Regions from separate parts of the Homo sapiens genome. Here region 1 is linked to region 2. The links come from fine-mapping of genetic effects on gene expression. A gene starts in region 2. The other region holds a variant in brackets. All regions are shown on one strand. Distances are between the middles of the regions.

Region 1 (8,638 bases), 990 kb before region 2:
TCTCTGAGCTCAGTTTCCCGATTGGTAACATGGGGCTCTTATAAGGATTCCAGGTAACAGGTGAAAACCCCCAGTAGTGCTTGGTGGTAGTGGTGGGGGTGAGTAGAGGGGCAGTTCTGACTCACCAGAAGGTGAGGTTTGCCCTGTAGGAGAATAGGCCTGGGCCTGGTGGTCAAAGTCTGGGAGGGTGGATGAGTTTTGCTTCCTTTTCCAGGATGTTTATGACCTTTGGGCTGCTGAGGCTGGGCCTGGTGCCTGCCAGAGCTGCCAGTATCTTTCCCCCACTTGCTAAGAGGCCTGGGCACAGGGTGGCAATAAGGGAAAGTGTAATGTGTCAGGCCAGCTGCTGTTCATCCCTCCTCCTCCTTCTCTCTCTGCCCGAGGCTGGGAATCTGGGCAGCCAGGCCTCCTTCTCCTCCCTGTCCTCACCCAGCCTGCGTGCGGCATGGGGTCTCAACCCTCTCGTAGGCATAAGTGCTTTTACAGCTTTCACTTCCATTATTTCAATGATTCTTTACACAAACCCTGCCAGATGGGTCTTAGCCCTGTTTACCAGAGAAGTTCAGAGAGGTGAAGTGATCCTTGGAGATCACACAGCAATAGAGTACAGAGGGGCTCAGTTGAGGCCCCCGGAGGTGGGCTGGGCCCTGTTTCTGGGAATGCAGCCTCAGAAAATAGAGACCTAGCTTCTTATGGGTTTTTCTTTTCCTAAAACCTTGGCACCAAAACTCCCAACTGGGAAGTCTTTTCTCAGTACCCACCTTGGACTTTAGCCTTTCCATTTATCACAGGCTTTCCCCCCAGGGCGTCAGAAGTGAAGGGGGTGAGTTTAGGGGTTTCCACACTCACCACAGAATGTGGTTTTGGGACATGGAGAATTCGTTTCATTCTGGGTTTCACAGCCTCCACAGTGTCTCCACCTGGTCCGAGAGCGGTCTGTGACCTTTCCAAATCAAAAATAATGACAACATCCTGGGGAACGGTGGCAGTAAAAGCTGCCAGTTAGTGAATGGCTCCTACGTTATCAAGCCCTATTTACTGAGTGTTTTTTAGATATTAACTCTGTTCATCCTCAGGATAATCCCACAAATCAGGTGCTGTACCTATCCCCATTTTGCAGCTGAGGAAACTGAGGTTAGGAGTAATTAGGTAACTTGGCCAAGACTATATAGTTAGTAAGTAGTAGAGCTCAGATTTGAACACAGGGCCCCCAAGTGTGTAATCGCTATGCTGTTTCTGAAAATTAAATTCATCTTGATTTAAAAACAGAGCACTCATGCTCTTTATCCCACTTTCTGTATTTTTTGTAGTCCTGAAATATGTCATAAACAACCCCAAACCCTCAAACTCTGATGAGACAAATGGCACGTAGGTGGATTGGAATGCTTCCTGCATAGCCTTGAGTGAAAGAAAAACATTCTTTTTGTTTTGTTTCAACCCTTGGGTTAAAAAGTATTCTGAAAGCATCCTCACTGTCCTCCCTGGTCCCGCACAGTGCCAGAGCCGGGGGTCTTGGACTGAGTCAGAGTTGCATGGGTGCATCTGGAGGGACCTTGATTGGAGAGAGGTAAAGTCCGCTGTAGGGTGGGGCTGTCTTCTTTTTCTTTGCAGGGGTGAGGAAGAGGCTGGTTGCCACTTTCAGGCTGCCCTGGGCAGGTGATGTTACCTCCCTTAGCTCCAGTTTCCCCACCTGTGAAATGAGGCATGACTGCCATCTTAACCCAACTCTTCAGTCTCCCCACCTCTCCCTTTTAGACAACCCTTCTCCTGTGGCCTTGCTCCAGGCTACACAGTAGAATCACCTGGGAACTTTGTTTTAATTAATTAATTAATTAATTTGAGATGGAGTCTTGCTCTGTCGCCCAGGCTGGAGTGCAGTGGCACGATCTCGGCTCACTGCGACCTCTGCCTCCCGGGTTCAAGCAATTCTCCTGCCTCAGCCTCCCGAGTAGCTGGGACTACAGGCACGTGCCACTACGCCTAATTTTTTATATTTTTAGTAGAGACGGGGTTTCACTGTGTTAGCCAGGATGGTCTCGATCTCCTGACCTCGTGATCTGCCTGCCTCGGCCTCCCAAAGTGCTGGGATTACAGGCGTGAGCCACTGTGCCCGGCCCACCTGGGAACTTTAAAAAAAATTCCAGGCTTGGGCTCCACCCCAAGAACCCTGCTTCTGACCAAACCCCAAAAGCACCTTGAGATTCCCACTCACCACAGTGGAAGCCCCTGCCCTGCCTGCCCTCTCCTTCCGCCTCCTCCTTATCTCCTGCTTGCCTCTCTCCGTACATCTCCATAAAGGCTACTTCCTCCCCACCAGCTTCTATGATTGCAGCACGGTGTGTAGGATTTGGATGTCCTTAGATCTGGGTTTAAATTATGTCTCTACCACATACAAGTTTCCCTCATCTTTCAAGACCGAAACAAAAATCTCAGGTGCTCAGGTGCTCTCTTTGACATCACCTCCAGTTCATCTTCTCCCATTCTCTCTCTTTTCTTTATTATTATTATTATTATTTTTTAAATTTTAGAGATGGGGTCTCACATGTTTCCCAGGCTGGCCTTGAACTCTTGGCTCAAGTGATCCTCCAGCCTCAGCCTCCTGAGTAGCTGGGACTACAGGCACATGCCACTGTGTCCCCATTCTCTCAAACACATTTCAGCCAGGCTTTTGCCTCCAACTCTCAGGAGGAGCTGATCTCATAAGGAACACGGATGATCCTCATTCTAAACCATGACCCCTAGCTCCATACTGATGTGTGCGCTGTGTCCCCGCCTCTCGTTGGGATACCCGCTGCCCAGCGTGAGTGCCTGGTTCTCCCCCAGCCTACTCTGTCTCTAAACAGCCCCATCCCGCCTCCCAGTTGCTCTGTCCAGACACCTTGGAGTCATCTGACTCCTCTTTCCTTCACACCCCACCTCATTCCATCAGCACAGTCGGTGGGCTGCAGCTTCAAAGGAGATCCAGCATCCATTACTACTCATGCCCAGATCCCCCCTCTCTGCAGTTGCCTCCTAGCAGGCTCCCGCCTCCTCCTTGCACCCTACATCTCATCTCTTCTCAACGGAGCAGCCAGAGGGACCCTTTTAAAACCCAAGTTGGATCCTGAGTCTCCTGGGTTCTAAACTTGGCAGTGGCCCCTGCCAGTGACAGAGGCAAAGGTGTAGCGCTGTCAGGTGCTGCGTTGCCTTCCGGACCGGCTGCTTTTCTTGGACCCTCCGTTCTACCCCCGCTTCCCACCCTCTGCCCTCCCCGCACGCCTACTCCGGCCTCGTTGGCCTCCTTGCTGTTGCTCAGACACGCGCCCCGCTGGGGCCTTTGCTCGGCTGCTCCCCCTGCCGGAGGTGTTAGCCATCTGCAAGGCTCATCTCCGGCCTCCAGGCGAGGCCGCCTCCAGCTCGCTGCTCTGGGAGTCTCCCTGACTCTCTAATTCCTATTGCACCCCGTGCCCCCACCCCACCAGCGCTCAGCTCCCGACCCTGCTCCGCTCTGCTTTTTGTTTCTTTCTGTTGGTTTCGGATCTCTTCTCATATTCTAGATTATTTACTTATTTACTAAGGTGTGTGTGTGTGTGTGTGTGTGTGTGTGTGTGTGTGT[T/GTGTT]TTATAGTAGAGACGGGGTTTTGCCATGTTGGCGAGGCTGGTCTTGAACTCCTGACAGGTGATCCACCCGCCTCGGCCTCCCAGCGTGCTGGGATTACAGGCGTGAGCCACCGCGCCGGCCTACTAAGGTATTTTTTTAAAAACCTTTTGTCTCCTGTTACTGAACAAAAAGCTCCACGCCCTGATCACAGAGCCCAGGTGCCTAGATTGGTGCCGGGCGCACAGCTCAGCCAGTGTATGGGTTTCTAGGCCCTCCAAAGCAGAGGTGGGCATCCTCCCAAGGTGAAGGGGTTCTCCAGGGGTGTCGTTGGCCGCTTACACCGCGCTCTTGATGGCGGAAGAGGGGAATTGCCAAAAAGCTATAGTGATCCTGCATGTCAGCAACCCCCTCTTCTGTAATTGGTGCAGGCTCAGGTCTGAGAACCACAGCTGCGGATCAAGACTGCAGGCTTGGAGTCAGGAACCCCGTGAACTTGAGCACAGAGCGCGGGTCGGCTGTGTTGTCATTGCCCTGACATCGCTTGGGACTCCCTCAGTGCGTTAGTTCTTAAATTAAACAAACAAACAAACAAAGGGCCAGGCGCGGTGGCTCATGTCTGTAATCTTAGCACCTTGGGAGTCTGAGGCGGGTGGATCACGAGGTCAGGAGATCGAGACCATCCTGGCTAACATGGTGAAACGCTGTCTCTACTAAAAATACAAAAAATTAGCCCGGCATGGTGGCGGGCGCCTGTAGTCCCAGCTACTCGGGAGGCTGAGGCAGGAGAATGGCGTGAACCCGGGAGGCGGAGCTTGCAGGGAGCCGAGATCGCGCCACTGCACTCCAGCCTGGGCGACAGTGCGAGACTCCGTCTCAAAAACAAAAACAAAAACAAAAACAAAGAACAAAAAAGACACTGGACAGAGGGAATGAATAGATGGACATGTTTGTGATGAAGCAAATACAGTCACATAATTGCACAATCTGTGTGGCAGGTATACAGACGTTCATTAAAAAACTTCCTTTAACTTTGTTTTGTTTTGTTTTTTGAGACAGTCTCGCTCTTGTCGCCCAGGCTGGAGTACAATGGCGTGATCTTGGCTCACTGCAACCTCTGCCTCCTGAGTTTAAGCGATTCTCTTGCCTCAGCCTCCCGAGTAGCTGAGATTACAGGCGTGCTCCACCATGCCCAGCTCATTTTTTTTGTATTTTTAATAGAGATGGAGTTTCACCATGTTGGCCAGGCTGGTCTCGCACTCTTGACCTCAGGTGATCCACCCACCTTGGCTTCCCAAAGTGCTAGGATTACAAGGCGTGAGCCACTGCGCCCGGCCTCAATTTTGAACGTTTGAAAATTTTTCGTGATAAAATGTTGAGAAGCATGCTGTAAACTTAAAAGATACTCATTGCAGAAGACCTGGAATATATAGAAAAATAGAAGGAAGCAAAAATTATCACAAAAACCACGCTTAGCCCCAGCACCCAGAAACCAGAGGGAATGTCCATTAGGATATTGTTATAGAGCTTTCTAGTCTTTTTGCTTGTGTCTGTTTTGCTATTTTTACATGATAGTGATTGTATGGATTACCACTGATTCTGTCAAGTCTTAGCTCAATTTCTGGTTCTAAAATGAACACATGCTTATTTAAACATTTTGGAAAACTAGAAAATACTTTTTTTTTTTTGAGGCAGTCTTGCTCTGTCGCCTAGATTGGAGTGCAATGGCATCATCTGGGCTCACTGCAAGCTCCACTTCTCAGGTTCAAGCGATTCTCCAGCCTCAGCCTCCTGAGTAGCTGGGACTACAGGCATGTACCACCATGCCTGGCTAATTTTTGTATTTTTTGTAGAGACAGGGTTTCACCATGTTGGCCAGGCTGGTCTCAAACTCCTGACTTCAAGTGATCCACCTTCCTTGGCCTCCCAAAGTGCTGGGATTACAGGTGTGAGCCCCCGCGCCCGGCCTAGAATATAATTAAAAAGAAAATTAATACCTTCAATTGAGAGGCAGTTTCATGAGGTTTGGCAACAGACAATATCTACATTTCCCAACTTAAAAACTGCAAGTCCATCAACATGAGTATTTTTTCCCTTTAAATACTTTTTAACATTTTTATTGTCAAAGTAATTCATATTAATAAAATTCAAACAATAAAATAATATAACATGAAATATAAAAGTTCTGAATCCCAACCACGCACTGTTGCGTATGTAATATATAACAGCTTGGTTATTTTCCTTAGCTCATATGTAGTGTATAATACGTTTTCTGTATAAATGTATAAAAAAGTCTATTATATGTATATATATTATTGAAAAAGGCTGGAGTGCAGTGGCGTGATCTCAGCTCACTGCAACCTCCACCTCCCAGGTTCAAGTGATTCTCTTGCCTCAGCTTCTCGAGTGGCTGGGACTCCAGGCATGTGCCACTATGCCCAGCTAATTTTTGTATTTTCAGTACAGACAGGGTTTTGCCATGTTGGCCAGGCTGGTCTCAAACTCCTAACCCCAAGTGATCCACCCACCTTGGCCTCCCAAAGTGCTGGGATTACAGGCATGAGCCACTGTGCCCGGCCTAAAAATGTATTTTAAGCAACAATGGAATAATAATGTCTTTCAACTTGCTTTTCTCAATTAATATTTCCATGCCTGCTCATGTAAATTCACCTTACTCTCTCTAATATCTCTGTCTGTGTGTGTGTGTGTGTGTGTGTGTGTGTGTGTGTGTGTGTGTGTGTGTGTAGGATAATTTACTTAACTAGCCCTTTTTGATGGTTGTTAGGGTTTTTTTTTCTTTTCTTTTTTTTCCTTCAACTTTTATTTTAAGTTCCAGGGTACATGTGCAGGATGTGCAGGTTTGTCACAAAGGTAAAAGTGTGCCATGGTGGTTTGCTGCACAGATCAACCCCATTACCTGGGTATTAAGCCCGGCATCCAAGCTGTTTTTTTCAATGTGAATTTCAGAGACCAGAAATTGCTCCTCAGTTTGCTTGCTAAGGAAAATGGTTGCTATGCAGCTCTTGGTAACACTGCTTTTGTGGAAAGATAAAGGCTTTTTGTTCTGAAATCCCGTGGGTGCAGAGTCTCAACTCTGCCATTGTTGTTGCGTGAGCTGTGTGGGAGAGCCTTGGTCACTGTGTGGGCTGGGGTTCTCCTGAACTTTGCCATGGAGGAGGCAGTTCTCTTCTCAGGCACTCTGCTGGCCCTGACCTTGATCCTGGAACAGAGAACTACCTGACAAGGCAGTGCAGTAGCATTCCTGGAATCAATGTAGGTTCTTTTACAATAGGGGTTGGCAAACTTTTCCTGTAAATGGACAGATAGTAAACATTTTATTATTTTATTTATTTTTTGAGATAGAGTCTTGCTCTGTTGCCCAGGCTGGAGTGCAATGGCGTGATCTCAGCTCACTGCAACCTCCGCCTCTGGGTTCAAGCGATTCTCCCTGCCTCAGCCTCCTGAGTAGCTGGGACTACGGGAGCCTGCCAACAGGCGTGGCTAATTTTTGTATTTTTAGTAGAGACAGTGTTTCACCAAGTTGGCCAGGCTGATCTCGAACTCCTGACCTCAAGTGATCTGCCTGCCTTGGCCTCCCAAAGTTCTGGGATTACAGGCATGAGCCGCTGCGCCTGGCCATCATAGTAAGCATTTTAGATCTTGCAGGCTATATGGTCTCTGTCACAACTATTCAACCCTGCTGTTGTAGAGAGGAGCCAGGGTAGACACAATGTAAATGTATGAGCCTGGCGATGTTCCACTAAAGCATTATGGACACTGAAATTTGAATTTCATATAATTTTCATGTGTCACAAAATACTATTCCTCCTTTGACTTTTCCCCCAAGCATTAAAAAAAAAAAAGTACAAACCATTCTTAGCTTGCAGGCAGACCTCTTGCAGGCAGAGGTCCAAATTTGGCCCATGAACTGCAGTTTTCATACTTCTAAATTTAGAACATGAGTTTTTGGATTCTTAGTTTTGATTCAGCTGAGATGGGTGACGTGTATAATGATAAGTACTTGTTTTTCTAGGTGGATCTTAGTGGTAGAGGTGAATTATTCATATCTTCATTTCATAGCGCCCTGTCCTTGCTGGTCCCTACAAGACTCCCCTGTCTTCTGTGTTTATTTGTTCCCTTTAATCATCATTTTTTTTTTTTTTGAGACAGTTTCACTGTCACCCAGGCTGGAGGGCAGTGGTGCGATCTTGGCTCACTGCAACCTCCGCCTCCTGGGTTCAAGTGATTCTCCTGCCTCAGCCTCCCAAGTAGCTGGTATTACAGATGTGCACCACCACGCCTGGCTAATTTTTGTATTTTTAGTAGAGACGGGGGGTTTCACCATATTGGCCAGGCTCGTCTCAAACTTCTGACTTCACGTGATCTGCCTGCCTCGGCCTCCCAAAGTGCTGAGATTACAGGTATGAGCCACTGTGCCTGGCCTCCTTTTGTTTTTTTTTTTTTTTTTGAGACAGAGTTTCGCTCTTGTCACCCAGGCTGGAATGCAATGGTGCAATCTCTGCTCACTGCAACCCCCACCACCTCCTGGGTTCAAGCAATTCTCCAGCCTCAGCCTCTCGAGTAGCTGGGATTACTGGCGTACGCCACCACGTCTGGCTAATTTTTTTTATTTTTGGTAGAGGCAGGGCTTCACCATGTTGGCCAGCCTGGTCTTGAACTCCTGACCTCGGGTGATCCGCCCACCTTGGCCTCCCAAAGTGTTGGGATTACAGGCGTGAGCCACTGCATCCGGCCATGTATCTTTAATTTATATAAGTGGCATTTTGTTACAGAGCTCATCCCCATTTTTCCACTTCGCAGTGTCTTTTAAAGATATCCAACTTGCCAAGTGACCATCAAACCCTTGCTCCTAACTAGTGTGTAGGGCTCCATAGGTGAGCCCACTGTCTTTTACTTCATTTTCAAAAAGAAGTTGTCTTGAGTGAGATTATGTGTTGAGCTTGAGCGTAATTATGTGTTGAGCTTGGGAATATGTATCTCTTGCCCTTACAAAGAATAGGCAGATTGGCTGAATGTCAAAAAAAAAAAAAAATTACAGCTTTTTT
Region 2 (15,827 bases):
AGGCGTGAGGCACCATGCCTGGCCATGGGCCTTACATTTTCATTTGGCTTCAGCATAAGCATCCTTTTTGGGTTTTTTTTTTTTTTTTTTGAGATGGAGTCTCACTGTTGCCCAGGCTGGAGTGCAATGGTGTGATCTCGGCTCACTACAACCTCTGCCTCCCAGGTTCAAGCGATTCTCTTGCCTCAGCCCCCAAGTAGCTAGGACTACAGGCACCTGCTACCACGTCTGGCTGATTTTTGTATCTTTAGTAGAGATGGGGTTTCACCATGTTGTCTCGAACTCCTGGCCTCAAGTGATCCACCTGCCTCGGCCTTCCAAAGTGCTGGGATTACAGGGATGAGCCACTGTTCCCGGCCAGCATGAGCATCCTTGATTTCAGCAAAATGAGCAAGTGCAAGCCTTCCTTGGGTTGCTAGATATTTTCGTAGAAGAGCCCAGCAAGATCATCACATTTTAGTAGGCCTAGTTAGTAAGTGGTGATCAGAGCCAATGGAGTCCCTCTTGGATAGAAATAGCCATAAGGTCAGATAGCTGTTTCTCAAACTAAACTTTTGGAGGATGTCGGGGGTTGAGGAGACATAGTTTCGCTCTATTGCTCAGGCTGGAGTGCGGGGAGTGCTGTGGTATGATCCTGGCTCATTGCAGCCTTGACCTCCCAGGCTTCTAAAGTTCTGGGATTACAGGCATCGATCACTGTGCCCAACCTAGAGGCTTCTGCTTGTAGCTAACAGCACTTTTGTTTTTGTTTTTGTTTTTGAGACGGAGTCTCCCTCAGTCGCCCAGGCTGGAGTGCAGTGGTGCGATCTCGGCTCTTGGCAAGCTCTGCTTCCCGGGTTCACGCCATTCTCCTGCCTCAGCCTCCTGAGTAGCTGGGACTGCAGGCGCCCGCCACTACACCCTGCTAATTTTTTTGTGTTTTTTAGTAGAGACGGGGTTTCACCGTGTTAGCCAGGATGGTCTCGATCTCCTGACCTCGTGATCCGCCTGTCTCGGCCTCCCAAAGTGCTGGGATTACAGGCGTGAGCCACCGCGCCCAGCTGCTAACAGCACTTTTTAAAGTTTCCCATTGTTTTAGTGACAGGAAGTATACTGTTCCCCCTTCCCCTCATTTTGTAGACTGACCACAAGTCAGAGATTATTTTACCAGAAACTTTTTTTGGGGGGTTATTTTTTTTTTGAGACGGTCTCACCCAGTCACCCAAGCTGGAGTGCAGTGGCATGATCACGGCTCACCACAGCCTCAGCCTCCCATGTCAGCCTCCCAAGTAGCTGGGACTGTAGGCCCGCGCCATCACACCCAGCTAATTTTTGTGTTTTTTTTGTAGAGACGGGGTTTTGCCTTGTTGCCCAGGCTGATCTGAAACTCCTGGGCTTCTAAAGTGCCAGGATTACAGGCATGAGCCACTGGGCCGGGCCCTTTTTTTTTTTTTTAAAGGAAAAATGAGAAGGATGGCTTGTGCTTGTGAGGAGGAAGGGGATGCATTCATGGAATTCCCCAGCTCAGGAACTATTTCCAATCAATTTCCTGGTAGTTAAAACACTTCCTTGGCACCCCTGTTGTCATCTGTTGAAGAAATGTGGGCCAGAGGACACACTAGAGATGCTGGAATCGGGTGTCCAGAAAGGACACAAAACTGCCCTGTGGCAATGACATAATTTTTGTCAACTTTGGTTTCTTATCTATCTCAAAGTATTATAGTGAGGATTCCAGGAGAGACACCCAGAGGATCATGTGGTGGGCCTTAGATTTCATTCGTGTAATAAGTATTGAGCAACAGCTATTGGGTGGCGTGACTGACTGGATGGATGAATAAGGTGAAGATCTGGGCGCCAGGACTGGCTTTCTCAGGCAATTCCGTGATGAGGGGGCGGGTCTCGAGGTAGGTACCACGTGCACCTACTCGAGATTCTGCACCTACCCGGGGTTTTGACTGCCGGCCACGCGAGTTTGGCACGCCGGATGTGACGTCACCACCCGGTGGTTCCCGGAACCTGGCGGTGGGACCGGAAATCAAGTCTACAAGGCGGGGGGGTGCACAGATGACCGGAAGCGTGCCCTGGCGGCGCTGCCAGCCCCAGCTGGGAGCTGGTAGGGGAGTGCGAGGAAGGCGGGACGCAGGGCGGAGCCGCTGCAGGGGCGGGGCCTGCGGACAGGAGCCGGGGTTTGGGGCGGGAACCCCTCGTCCCCTGCAGACCCCGCCTGCTCGGGCGCGGGCGGCGGCGCGGCCATGAAGCTGAAGCTGAAGAACGTGTTTCTCGCCTACTTCCTGGTGTCGATCGCCGGCCTCCTCTACGCGCTGGTACAGCTCGGTGAGCGGGGCGGGGCGGGGGTGCGGCGGGCTGGCCCGAGGGCGCCCGCCGCCGTGCATCCCGCCCTGGGGATGAACCCCCGGCAAACACCATTCATCCGCTCGGCCCTCCGGACAGCTCTGCGGCCTCAGGCGCACTGCCCTCTATAGAACGCACCGCGGCTACCCGCCGCACCTCGGATGAAATCCAGACTCCTTCCCAGAGCCTGCAAGGCCCCGCATGATCCTGCTGCCGTCCGCCTCTCCCAACCCCATTTCCACCCCTCTCCCTCGCTCTGCTGCAGCCAGACTGGCTTGCTGACAGTTTCTCGAAAACCCCACGCTCATTACTCTCTCAAGCACTTAACTTGTTCCCTCTGCTTGGGGTGCTTTGCTTCCAGCGTTTCCCGGGCTGCCTCTTTCTCATCCTTCAGGTCTTAGCTCAAATGTCACCTCCTCAGAGAGGCCTTCCCTGACCACCATAGCTAAAGTTACCATTCTTAATTCCATTCCCTTTTATTCTCTATCCTGATTATTTTCTTCATGGCCCCATCACAGTTTGTAATAATGTTATTAATTTGTTTCTTTGCTTAGTGTCTGCTTCCTCCACTAAACAGAAAGCTCGATGAGGGCAGGGACTGTGTCTGTTTTGTTCCCTGCTGTATCCCCAGCACCTAAGGCAGTGCCTCCTAGGAAGAGTATTCAATAAATATTTATCCTACGATGGAATCAATGAATTTAACAATGAGTCTTTGGTCACCTAGCCAAGGGAATGGATCGAACCCTGCCCCTTATGCAAAGATTTAGGGACAGTGCCACTGCGTTATCCTCAGGTATTTGAAAGACTGTCCAAAAGGGGTTCCATAGTGTAATGGTTAGTTGGCACCTTGGACTCTGAAAAGACTGTCCTGTTTAAGGACATGAGCTTGTTAGAAGCCCAGAAGGCAAAATTAGGACCAGCAGGTAGAAAAGATGGAATCAGCTCAATATCCAACATAAAATTGTAACAATGGAATTTATTAAAGTTGGAGAGGGTCTGCTGCTTGAGGCAGTGAGTTTCCCACACGAGAGGTATAGAAAAGGCTACTAGGGAAGTCATAAGGTGATACCTGCATTGGTTAGGAATTAATGAGACGATTACGGCCCTTTGGGATGCTGAACATTCTGCGGTTCTCTGTCCCCACCTTCTTTCCCCATTAATGCTTCCTGGGACCAGGCCAGCCATGTGACTGCCTTCCTCCCCTGCGGGCAGCAGCCGAGCAGCTACGGCAGAAGGATCTGAGGATTTCCCAGCTGCAAGCGGAACTCCGACGGCCACCCCCTGCCCCTGCCCAGCCCCCTGAACCCGAGGCCCTGCCTACTATCTATGTTGTTACCCCCACCTATGCCAGGTATGGGCTCTGGTGCACTCAAGAGGTCTGCGTTGTCCAAGAAGTTGGAGTTGATGATGAGGAGTTTGGGGAGGCACTGGGCTAGGAGTTGTTCCTCAAACTAGAGCATGCCAAAGACAGGATAAATGAACCACATTTATACTCAAATATTTGTGGGAAAATAGTTCTTTTTCAGGCTGGGTGTGGTGGCTCACGCCTGTAATCCCAGCACTTTGGGAGGCCGAGGCGGGTGGATCACCTGAGGTCAGGAGTTCGAGACCAGCCTGGCCAACATGGCAAAACCCCGTCTCTACTAAAAATACAAAATTAGCCAGGCGTGGTGGCGCATGCCTATAATCCCAGCTACTGGGGAGGCTGAGGCAGGAGAATCCCTTGAACCTGAGAGGCGGAGGTTGCAGTGAGCTGAGAGTGCGCTATTGCACTCCAGCCTGGGCAACAAGAGTGAAACTCCATCTCAAAAACAAAACAAAACAAAAGAAAAAAGAAAAAAAATAGTTCTTTTTCTAGAAGGAAAATACAAAATTTCTACCAAATTATAAGATAGAACAATAACATTTCAAAGAAATTTTGAGCTTGGCAGTGAATTAACTCTCTCTCCTTAGGGACCGTTTGGCAAGAAAGTTAAAACCCCCTGATTAAAGTTGAAAGGGCTTGTCTGGGCGCAGTGGCTCACGCCTGTAATCCCAGCACTTTGGGAGCCCGAGGCTGGCGGATCGCCTGAGCTCAGGAGTTTGAGACCAGCCTGGGCAACATGGTGAAACTCTTGTCTCTGAAAAAAAAAAAAAAAAAAAAAAAAAGTTAGCTAGGCGTGATGGTGCATGCCTGTAATCTCAGCTACTCTGGAGGCTGAGGTGGGAAGATTGCTTGATCCTGGGCGGCGGAGGTTGCAGTGAGTGGAGATCATGCAGCCTGGGCGACAGAGAGAGCCCATTTCAAAAAAAAAAAAGTTGAAAGTGCTTGGCCTGATAGTCATACTAGGGTCCAGAAATAGTTATACCAGCTGTTACTTACAGTGTGTTTACTCTCTAGCAGGCACTGTATTTAGTGATTTACATTTGCTTTTGTTTTAAATCAAATGTAATTGGTTTTACTAATAAAACCAATTGGGGAATGTGGTTTTGGATCTGTAGCCATAAGGGTGTTAATACATCTTCTGGGAATCAGATGGCTGTCCCATTCACGCATAGGAAGCTCTAGACCCCACCTGCGACATGCACACACAACCAGCCCTGGGACAGGCAGGTAGATCTGAAGGATAAAGAAGTACAGAAGAGGCCAAGCCCCACGTTCCACATTCCTGGTTTGTTCCTTTTTTTTTTTTCTTCCCCCCGCCTCCCCGCAACACCGAGATGGAGTCTTGCTCTGTTGCCCAGGCTGGAGTGCAGTGGTGTGATCTTGGCTCACTGCAACCTCCACCTCCCGGGTTCAAGCGATTCTCCTGCCTCAGCCTCCCGAGTAGCTGGGATTACAGGCGTGCACCACCACACCAGGCTAATTTTTTTTTTTTTTTTCCCGAGATGGAGTCTCACTCTGTCGCCCAGGCTGGAGTGCAATGGCACGATCTCGGCTCACTGCAACCTCCACCTCCCGGATTGAAGCAATTCTCCTGCCTCAGCCCCCCGAGTAGCTGGGGTTACAAGCATGCGCCACCACACCCGGCTAATTTTTTGTATCTTTAGTAGAGATGGGGTTTCACCATGTTGGCCAGGCTGGTCTGGAACTCCTGACTTCGTGTTCCACCTGCTTCGGCCTCTCAAAGTGCTGGGATTACAGGTGTGAGCCACCATGCCTGGCCAGTAATTTTTTGTATTTTACTTTTGTATTTTTTTTTTTTTTGAGATGGAGTCTCGCTCTGTCATCTAGGCTGGGTGCAATGGCGTGATCTTGGCTCACTGCAAGCTCTGCCTCCCGGGTTCACGCCATTCTCCTGCCTCAGCCTCCCAAGTAGCTGGGACTACAGGTGCCCGCCACCACACCCAGCTAATTTTTTATATTTTTAGTAGAGATGGGGTTTCACCGTGTTAGCCAGGATGGTCTCGATCTCCTGACCTCATGATCCACCTGCCTCAGCTTCCCAAAGTGCTGGGATTACAGGTGTGAGCCACCATCCCCAGCTCTTATTTAATCTTTAAAACAACATTGTTATAAAGTACTGTTATTCCCATTTTACAGTTGAGGAAACTGAGGCTTAGGGAGATTGAGCCATTTTCCCAAATTGTCTCACATAATAAGTTACAAAACTGGATTTCAAACCCAGATCTACCTGATCCCAAAGCCTGTGCCCTTAATTTGTTTTTTTTTTTTTTTTTTTTTTTTTTTGAGACAGAGTTTCGCTCTTGTCGCTCAGGCTGGAGTGCAGTGGCACAATCTCGGCTCACTGCAACCTTCGCCTCCCGGGTTCAAGCGATTCTTCTGCCTCAGCCTCCCGAGTAGCTAGGATTACAGGTGACTGCCACCATGCCTGGGTAATTTTTTGTATTTTTAATAGAGACGGGGCTTCGCCATGTTGGGCAGGCTGGTCTCGAACTCCTAACCTCAGGTGATCCGCCCACCTCGGCCTCCTAAAGTGCTGGGATTATAGGCGTGAGCCAACATGCCCGGCCTTTTTTTTTTTTTTTTGAGATGGAGTTTTGCTGTTATCACTGAGGCTGGAGTGAAATGGTGCGATCTCAGCTCACTCCAACCTCCTCCTTCCAGGTTCAAGCGATTCTCCTGCCTCAGCCTCCCAAGTAGCTGAGATTACAGGCATGTGCCACTACACCCAGCAAATTTTTGTATTTTTTTAGTAGAGATGGGGTTTCACCATATTGGCCAGGCTGGTCTGGAACTCCAGACCTCAGGTAATTCACCTGCCTCAGCCTCCCAAAGTGTTATTATAGGTGTGAGCCACCATGCCCGGCCCTGTGCCCTTAATTTATAGTCTCCCACAGCCTGAGCTCTGGAGTTGAGGTGGGTGATGGACATGGACCAGAAGAACAGGGCAGGTGAGTGTTAGCATGAAGTTGACAGGCAAGAAAGAGGGAGTTTAGGCATTGGTTGGGAAGGGCCACAGGAGACGCAGGCAGTGGCCCAGGAGAAGCTGTCTGCCCTGGCTGGAGCAGGCAAATGGTGCCTGCCCCTTTTCCTTGTGCTGCATCTCTCCCCTGCAGGCTGGTACAGAAGGCAGAGCTGGTACGACTGTCCCAGACACTGAGCCTGGTGCCCCGGCTGCATTGGCTGCTGGTGGAGGATGCTGAGGGTCCCACCCCGCTGGTCTCAGGGCTGCTGGCTGCCTCTGGCCTCCTCTTCACACACCTGGTGGTCCTCACGCCCAAAGCCCAGCGGCTTCGGGAGGGCGAGCCTGGCTGGGTTCATCCCCGTGGTGTCGAGCAGCGGAACAAGGCCCTGGACTGGCTCCGGGGCAGAGGGGGTGCTGTGGGTGGGGAGAAGGACCCACCACCACCAGGGACCCAAGGAGTCGTCTACTTTGCTGACGATGACAACACCTACAGCCGGGAGCTGTTTGAGGAGGTGAGCACCAGGATGGGGATGGGCAAGAGACCAGGTGCGGCCAGCTTCATTCGTTACCTTGGTTAGCAGTGTTGCCGTTGGCTGCTGGGTGAGGGGCTGGAAGCAGTGGGGCAGAGTGAGCCAGGTGGCTCTTTCTGCTGCTCCCTTCCCCGGACCACCCCTCTGTTTCTTCTCTCCCGACCTCCGTTAGATGCGCTGGACCCGTGGTGTCTCAGTGTGGCCTGTGGGGCTGGTGGGCGGCCTGCGATTCGAGGGCCCTCAGGTACAGGACGGCCGGGTAGTGGGCTTCCACACAGCATGGGAGCCCAGCAGGCCCTTCCCTGTGGATATGGCTGGATTTGCCGTGGCCCTGCCCTTGCTGTTAGATAAGCCCAATGCCCAATTTGATTCCACCGCTCCCCGGGGCCACCTGGAGAGCAGTCTTCTGAGCCACCTTGTGGATCCCAAGGACCTGGAGCCACGGGCTGCCAACTGCACTCGGGTAAGGGAATGGAGATGGGCATAGAAACCTGGCTCTTGGATGGACAGGTGATGGGGGAGGTACAGTGAGACCCTGGGAATGGGTGGTTTAACCAGGAGGGACTCTCCAGATCTCTGATCAGCCTTGCTGACTCTACTGAAGGGGAAGCTGGGAACTAGCGGGGGAAAGTGGTCTCCTGCCACTCTGCCCCGAGTTCTGGGAACCCATGTGGCACAGAGAGGATGAAGGAATAAGGCCCTGTTTGTTGTTTTTTTTTTTTTTTCAGACAGAGTCTCGCTGTGTCACCCAGGCTGGAGTGCAGTAGCGCAATCTTGGCTTAGCGCAAGCTCCGCCTCCCGGGTTCACACCATTCTCCTGCCTCAGCCTCCCAAGTAGCTGGGACTACAGGCACCCGCTACCACGCCCGGCTAATTTTTTTGTGTTTTTAGTAGTGACGGGGTTTCACGGTGTTAGCCAGGATGGTCTCAATCTCCTGACCTCGTGATCCGCCTTCCTCGGCCTCCCAAAGTGCTGGGGTTACAGGCGTGAGCCACGCGCCCGGCCAAGGCCCGGTTTTAGAGGCACTAAGTCTTCCTCCACCCTGCCCTTTACACTTTGAAGCCTATACTGTATATGTCGATAGGGTTAGAGAATCCATTCCAGGCTCGGGGACCCAGAGGCCTGGCTGCAGCTGGGCCTGGCTCTCACTGCATCCCTCCTGGCACAGGTACTGGTGTGGCATACTCGGACAGAGAAGCCCAAGATGAAGCAGGAGGAGCAGCTGCAGCGGCAGGGCCGGGGCTCAGACCCAGCAATTGAGGTGTGATGGCGGCCCCACCCCAACTACCACCTCTTTTCAGGCACAGACCTTGTGGGACTGGGCCCCAGGCCTGCCCAGGATGTGGTTTTCCAAGTCCTGACCCTTGGAGCCAGAAGTGGCCCCTCTGCCCCTCCAGGCCCAGGGCATGGTCCTGCTGCTTCACCCCTCCCCTAGCCTGCCGTGTGGCACTGCCCACAGGCTGGGGACAAGCAGCCCTTGTGTTGAGTCAGGTTGGCCCTGTCTAGGGTGGAACAGAAGGACAGATGGACCCAGGAGGGAGGGCAGCTGAGTAACTGGGTAACTTATTGGGGCTGGGCATGCACTGGGGGGCTGGAGGAGCTGGGCTGGACCCTTCCCACCTGAGCATGCTGACCCCCTTCCTACCTCCAGAATAAAGAATCTCAACCTGGAGGGGCCTCTTGTTTTCCTTTGCTTCTTACATTGGGTTCTTGCTTTCTGATCCTTACAGATGTGGGCTCCTGTTGCTGCACAGGTCGAGCCAGGGTCCAAACTTTGGAGTCCTAGCTGCTCCATCAGACAGAAATCAGTTCTCCCAGGCCCCCATCCCCTTGACAAGAAAAAGCAATTGCTTCCATCCAAAAACTTTATTGAGTCTATATCAGAATCAGCCTCCAGGCCTTCTCATGTCACTTTCCCATCACTCTGTTCTTTGCTGTTCCCTGGTGGTTCTGACTACAAGGGCTAGGCCCTAGGACATCTGGTTTTCTTTCTTACCCCAGTCCAGCTCGCTGACTATCCTTAGCCCCTCTAATCCTACGATCCCCCCAACCTGGAGCCTTGGTAAGGAGTTGTGAGGTTTTCAGACTTGTCCATCCCTCCCTCTTCCTCACCCCAAGCTCCAGGCCTCTAGGCCTCAGATAGATCCTCCTTGGGAGGTGCTTCTCCTGGTGGGGCCTCCTCAGGTGCTGGCCTGCAGGCAACCCCTCCCTGTAGCCATGCTGTTTTCAGCATATCTTTCAGCCCACTGGGAAAGAGATAGCCCTGGGTCTCTCCTCCCGCATCAATGACCCCTCCAAGCCCCTCCAGTGCTGTTTGCAGGTACCGCAGGCCAAGGAGCACCAGAGCCTGTGGGGGAAGCAAGGGGAAAGAGTCAGGGAGAGTCAGCGGTTCCAAGAGGCCCAGGGTTGGAGGCAGGGAGGAGTCCCGGGTGGGAGGAGGTGTCAGATGCTTTGCTGACTCACCTGCAGTAGGAAGGTGACAGCCAGCATGCTACCCAGTGTGCCTGCCAAGTCCTGCAAGTGCTCCAGCAGCACCTCATGGCACCCTTGGGCCCAGAGGTTTTGGTTGGGTTGTCGGGGATCGAACAGGGGGTGGGCGTAGGAGTCTGAAAGACGGTTTTGCAGGCAAGGCCGGGGTGAGTGGGGGTTGCAACAGGAGAAAGGGACCCCATCAGTCAGGTATAGGCCTTCTACATTGCTCTGGATCCGGCTGCAAAGGGAGGGACAGAGGGGTTAGGATGTCTGGAGATAGAGGCCTGGGGGAGGGACTGAAGGGCACAGGTGTTCAGAAGGGAAAAAGAATAGTAAAACATTTACTGACTGCTGTACTATGTGCCAGCCAAGCATAATTCACATCTTCACAACAACTCTATCAGATAAGTACTATTATTTCCATTTTACAGGTGAAGGAATGGGCCCAGGGTGGTTTGGTAACATGCCCTGGGTTTCACAGCTAATAAATGGCAGAGCTGTAACCAGTCTCTCAGCCACTATGTTCTACTTATTGCCCCTCTGAGCGAGGTGGGGATTCAAGGCAGCAGGAGGGAGCCTGTCCAGGGAGGAGGAGGAGGAGGAAGGGAGACGCAAATCACTCACTCAGCCACATCCCGGTCACCGGGATCCAGGTAACGGCTGCTGACCCACTGGACCCCAAACCAATCCTTGTACCCGTGGCGCCCGCAGCAGTGGTACCTCAGTTGCAGCTCATCCACCAGCCTTTTGGCCTGACAGTGCCCAGGCACCTCTGTGTCCTTGTAGTGAGCCAAGGCAGTCACCAGGCCCTCCTCCAGCGCCTCATCCAGACTCCCAGGCAAAGCCAGGGCTAGCCCGAGGCCGACGACCAGGAGCCCCCCCCCACCAGCCGTGCCAGCCACCAGCAGCGGGCCCAGGACCCCTCGCCAGGGAGGGTATAGAGCTGCATTCAGACTTGCCCGGCTGGCTCCTACACCCACTAGTCCTGTGCCCAGAGCCACCGCGCCCGCTGCCAGGGCAGCCTGGGGCAGGACAGGGAACTGACAGGAGGGAGCCAGGAAGGTGCCAAGGTGCCTTAGCTGGACCAGGAGGTGCCCACTACAGAGGAGGATGACGCCACCAGCCAGCGCCAGCAGCCAGGAGAGGAGCCAGAGCCCTTGTGCCAGGCGGATGCGGGGCTGCAGGGGCAGCACCAGGGGCAACACCGGCGCCATCTCCCATCTCTGCCCAAGGGAATGCAGAGGTGTCAGGGATGGAAGCTGGCTGGGGCAGGATGCTGAGTCAGCCCGGCCCGGCTTGAGCTGGGCTAATGCCACCCTGACCCCAATACCCTGAGCATCCTCCCATCCTCAGCCCTAATAACCCGCCCCCCTGTCAGCCCCAATACAAGATGCCTTGGCCTTGCCCCTTACGAGAAACTCCGCCCCTAGGCCGAGGGCCCGTTTTGTGACCCCGCCCCTGCCCCTCGCGGAAGTGGTGGGGTTGGTCCGCTCAACCCTGAGGGGTTAGGGGCTGGGGGGCGGAGATATCGGGGCGGGCGCTCCCTTCCCCGTCCCCTGGGAATCCGGGGGCGGGGATCCGGGAAGGGCCTGGAGCCGGAGGCCGGGAGTAGGCCAGGGGGTCAGCCGGCTAGCCCCGCCCCCGTACTGAGCGGCGAGGCCCGGACAGGGAGGGGTTACCAAGCGGCCCGGCCCCCCCTCGGGCCCGCCCCCCCTCCCGCGCTTCCTGGCGGCTCCGCGTCCGGCGCCTGTTTGTGCTGCGGCGCTGTGGCACCGGACGGCCCTGCCACCCCACCCCCGGGAGCCGAGAGCGGCCCCGGGAGAGTCCGAGGGCCCGGGGGGGTCTGGAGACTGCGGCCCCGGGCCCACAGCGCCCCCTCCAGGCCCCTTCCCCGCGCCCGACAGCGCCCCCTCGGGGTGGTGGTACGGCGCCCTTCGCGCGCGCCCCGGGGTGCTTCCCCTTCCCCTCTCCCCGGCCGTGGCCCCCGCGGCTTAGACGCCTCCTCCGCCGCCGCCGCTCGGAGCAACCCGGGGGCCGGATGGACGGGGCCGCGGGGCCCGGTGAGTACGGGGCGGGGCGGGCGGCGTGCCCCTTCCCGGAGCGCCCGGCTCGTCGGGTTATGCCAGAGCTGGACGGCTGTCTGGAGGCGTCCCCGCGTGCTCCTCCGCCCCAGGGGCTCCGAGCATCCTCCACAGTTCCTCCGGTCGCCCTCCCTAGTTGCTTGGGTCTTGCTGTCACTTCGGGCTTCCCCAGCGTCATTCTACGCCCCACGTAACTCCGGGCCCCTCGATGTTTCCCTGCCCCCTGCGTTACTCCGGGCCTCTTCTCGTGGTATTTCAGGTCTTTTTCCTTCTGATCCCCACTGCCCCCTGAGACCTTCACTGTGACTCTGCTCACCACTCACACTCTCTCCTGTCACTCTGGATCTCTTTTCTTGTACTCTGGGTCCTCAGTATGACTCCATTCCCGCACCCCGTTCTCTCTCCTGGTGTTCCCCCGGCTCAGTTACTCAGCTTTCGCTGGAGACCTGAGCTTGCTGGGGGCGCGTGGGGAGGGCTGCGGTCCCTGCCCTCACCAGTGCGGCGCCTCTCTCTGTGGCTCCCACGTTCCTCGGCAGTACTCCATATTTCCCCCCCGGTACTCCATGGTACTCCCAGTCTTTGCGGAGGCTGAGACGGCAGCAGGAAGGGAGCTTTGCCAGGTTTCTCGCCTGCCCTGCCAGAAGGAGGCCCTTGATCCTTTACCACCGTCTCCTCCCCTCTGGACGAGCATTCAAGCCTGGGGCTGCCTGAAAGGGGCAGTCCTACCGGACACATGTAAAGTTGTGGGGAGACAGAATCCCCTCTACGCTTTCTTCAGGTGATGGGTACATTCTGAGTACCTCTTGCCCTTTTCCCAGGTGACGGCCCTGCTCGGGAGGCCCTCCAGTCTCTGAGCCAGCGGCTTCGGGTGCAGGAGCAGGAGATGGAACTGGTAAAGGCAGCCCTGGCAGAAGCCCTTCGCCTGCTGCGGCTGCAGGTGCCCCCTTCCTCCCTGCAGGGCTCTGGCACACCAGCTCCTCCGGGGGACAGGTATGCATGTCATCACACCCCATTTTTCCTCCTCCTTGGGGCCTCTGGGGCTTCAGGTTAATTCAACATCTCTCCAGCAGTCTTGCAGCCCCCCCAGGACTGCCACCCACGTGCACCCCTTCCTTGGTGAGCCGAGGCACCCAGACGGAGACAGAGGTGGAGCTCAAGTCATCCCCTGGACCCCCTGGCCTGAGCAATGGACCCCCAGCCCCTCAGGGGGCCAGCGAAGAGCCTAGCGGGACCCAATCTGAAGGAGGGGGCAGCAGCAGCAGTGGTGCTGGCTCCCCTGGCCCCCCGGGGATCCTCAGGCCCTTGCAGCCCCCACAGCGTGCTGACACGTAGGTGTCCTGTGGCCCTGTGGCGGAAGCTGGGAGGGGTGGTAGGATTGCAGAGTACAGTTGGAGGGAATGACCTTCACTATGCCCCCACCAGGCCGCGAAGAAATTCTTCCTCCTCCTCATCCCCCTCAGAGCGGCCTCGGCAGAAGCTCTCCAGGAAGGCAATCTCCTCCGCCAACCTGTTAGTGCGGTCCGGGAGCACAGAGAGGTGGGTGAGGCTTCCCCTCAACCCACCCCGCCCCAGGCGCAGGCTCTCGACTTTCCATATCCCTCACCTCACATCCCTGGTTGGGGTGGGGGGACCTGATTGCCCAACAGGAATAAAGAAACAAACACTTCTGGGGCGCCTGCTGTGTACCGGGCACTGTGCTAAACCCTCGACCTCCTCCATCTCAGTCAGTCCCCACAACATCCTTGGGGGTTAGGTGGTCTCATGCTGCTCATTGCACAGGTGAGGAAGCAGGCTCAGAGAGGGTAAGTCATTTGCCTGGGGTCACACAGCTAGAGTCAGGATTTGAACCTAACTCTTCCTGACTCCAGTTCCCCTACCCTTTCCACTACATCACAGCACACCTTCTGCGATCCCAAGAGGCTTTTCTAGAAGCTTCCATGGCTTTCATGGACGGCTGTCCCTAGAGCTTCAGCCCTCTTTCCGCTGGATCTACCAAGTACCAATCTATTAATACTTACTTCTAGAGGGCAAGAGGACATCCTAGTGGCCGGATGTAGTTGCCTCAGAGTATGTACGGGCCCCAGGACACCCGGATGTTCATTCTAGCCCTGTCCTTGGCCTGTGCTTTATTCTCTGAAGAGACAGTATCACTTTACTGTTATCTAACGACAGGAATCTCTGGAGAGATGTGGACTTTCTTGCTTGCCTCCCGGATCCCTGAGAGGCGGAGCTGGTGTACATTCTCGACTCCCTTTGGTCCCATTTTACGGATGGGGAAATGAAAAGGTCAATAGCGGGGCCTAGTGGCGCGCACGTGTAATCCCAGCTACTGGGGAGGCTAAGGCAGGAGAATTGCTTGAACCCAGGAGGCGGAGGTTGCAGTGAGCTGAGGTCGCACCACTGCACTCCAGCCTGGGCGACAGAGCGAGACTGAGGCCTGGTGGTCTGGAGGAGAGAAAGGGCTCTGGCACCCTGCACTGCCTCTTCCAAGCTTTGTGGCCTTGTGCTGTGCGCTCAGCCCCTTCAGCCTCAATCTTCTTATCTCTTAAATGGAACTAGAAGTCTCCATCTACTAGGGCCCTGATACTCACGAAGCAAACTACAGGCTTGCAGAAGTGACTGTGGTTTCTGCAGTGACCTCTTTTCTTGTGTCCTGCCCCTCCCCGCTTAGGTCTTGGGACCTGACCCCAATCCCTGTGCTTTCTCTCTTCCCAACAGCCGTGGGGGAAAAGACCCCCTCTCCAGCCCTGGGGGCCCTGGATCTCGGAGGAGCAATTACAATTTGGGTATGTAAAGAGGGACAGAGAGGAAAACTTGGATGGCAGGGTTAGGATTTGGGCTGTAGCCCCAGGAGCTATTTTGGGTAGGTGTGGTGGGTAGGGTTCTGCTCTGTCTTTCCTGGAAGGGGGTAGTTGACACCACCCCTTTTCTCTGTAGAAGGCATCTCAGTGAAGATGTTCCTTCGAGGGCGCCCCATTACCATGTACATCCCGTCTGGCATCCGCAGCCTTGAGGAGCTGCCGAGTGGCCCACCGCCAGAGACCCTCAGCCTTGACTGGGTGTATCCTGCCCCTTCCAGTCCCATGAGAACCACCTTTCTCACCTTGGGACCCCTCTTACCTTTACAGTTTCCTCCTGGGTCTGTGGGGACAAGGAGCCTTCTAGATCCTCTCCTACCATCATTCTGCTCTAGGCCCTGCCAGCCAGAAGCTCTGTCTTTCTCCCCTCTTCCTCCTCCTGCCCTTGATCTAACCCTTTCCTTGACCGTGATCTCCACCCCAGTTATGGGTACAGGGGTCGTGACTCCCGCTCTAATCTGTTTGTGTTGCGCTCTGGGGAGGTGGTCTACTTTATCGCCTGTGTGGTGGTGCTGTACCGGCCTGGAGGAGGCCCAGGGGGTCCTGGAGGTGGCGGCCAGAGACATTACCGGGGGCACACAGACTGCGTTCGATGGTGAGGAGTCCGGGGCTGGTGGGCTTGGCAGGAAGAGGGTCTGGGGGGATGGAGAAGCAGGAGAAAAGAGTTGCCTTGCTGCTCTGCAAGCTTGGAGAAGGTGTCTTGGATGGTCTTGAGAGACCCTTTCCCTAGAGTGTCTTCCCCCTGCCTTAGCCTTGCTGTTCACCCTGATGGTGTTCGGGTAGCCTCGGGACAGACAGCTGGAGTGGATAAGGATGGAAAGGTAAGGCCAAAGTCAGGGAGCAGGCAGACATGCTGGAATTGCACTCCAATTTTGCTTCACACTTGTGACTCTTCCTCCACCAGCCCCTGCAGCCTGTGGTTCACATCTGGGACTCAGAGACGCTGTTGAAACTGCAGGAGATTGGACTGGGGGCCTTCGAGCGGGGTGTTGGGGCCCTGGCCTTTTCAGCTGCGGTGAGCTGGCCCTGAAGCCTCTAGACCCCCATTCTTGCCTAGGAACCCCACTCTTGCATGTCACCAGGAAGCCTTGGAAGTTCTGGCCTTCCTGAACCCCACCCAGCTGGTTCTCTTGAGAAAGGGCCATGTGTGTCAACTTTTTCTGCCCTCTCCATCTGTGATGGTACCTCTTAACCTAATGACCATG

Direction of the effects. Positions count from the first base shown, and alleles are read on the strand shown. Sizes are in standard deviations (SD) of each study's normalised expression.
With allele GTGTT in place of T in region 1, the expression in ileum of the gene that starts at base 10,922 in region 2 is lower (large effect, 1.0 SD a copy in CEDAR).

What was found. PIP is the estimated chance that this variant, and not a neighbour inherited with it, causes the effect.
Region 1: its variant is fine-mapped to the expression of ROM1 in ileum (CEDAR, PIP 0.95).

What each region holds. Positions count from the first base shown.
Region 1 is chr11:63,601,383-63,610,020 of GRCh38, reverse strand. All of the region lies in intron 2 of PLAAT3 (phospholipase A and acyltransferase 3), which reads left to right. Among named protein-coding and RNA genes, the nearest start is that of PLAAT3, 8.7 kb to the left of the region's middle. RefSeq lists enhancers at 4,109-4,874, 8,117-8,618. The variant T/GTGTT (reference allele first, on the strand shown) is at 3,596.
Region 2 is chr11:62,608,352-62,624,178 of GRCh38, reverse strand. ROM1 (retinal outer segment membrane protein 1) reads right to left here and starts at 10,922. Exons shown (of 3, transcript NM_000327.4): 1 at 10,308-10,922; 2 at 9,675-9,921; 3 at 9,063-9,558. The coding sequence starts at 10,897. The coding sequence ends at 9,340. It overlaps EML3 (EMAP like 3), which reads left to right and starts at 11,404. Exons shown (of 22, transcript NM_153265.3): 1 at 11,404-11,743; 2 at 12,583-12,754; 3 at 12,835-13,092; 4 at 13,187-13,300; 5 at 14,483-14,550; 6 at 14,702-14,825; 7 at 15,047-15,217; 8 at 15,374-15,443; 9 at 15,527-15,637. The coding sequence starts at 11,722. It overlaps B3GAT3 (beta-1,3-glucuronyltransferase 3), which reads left to right and starts at 2,193. Exons shown (of 5, transcript NM_012200.4): 1 at 2,193-2,313; 2 at 3,508-3,682; 3 at 6,832-7,192; 4 at 7,383-7,673; 5 at 8,380-8,883. The coding sequence starts at 2,232. The coding sequence ends at 8,478. RefSeq lists silencers at 2,069-2,478, 11,038-11,917 and enhancers at 6,532-7,032, 7,033-7,533, 10,928-10,987, 11,761-12,320, 12,321-12,879 and 1 more.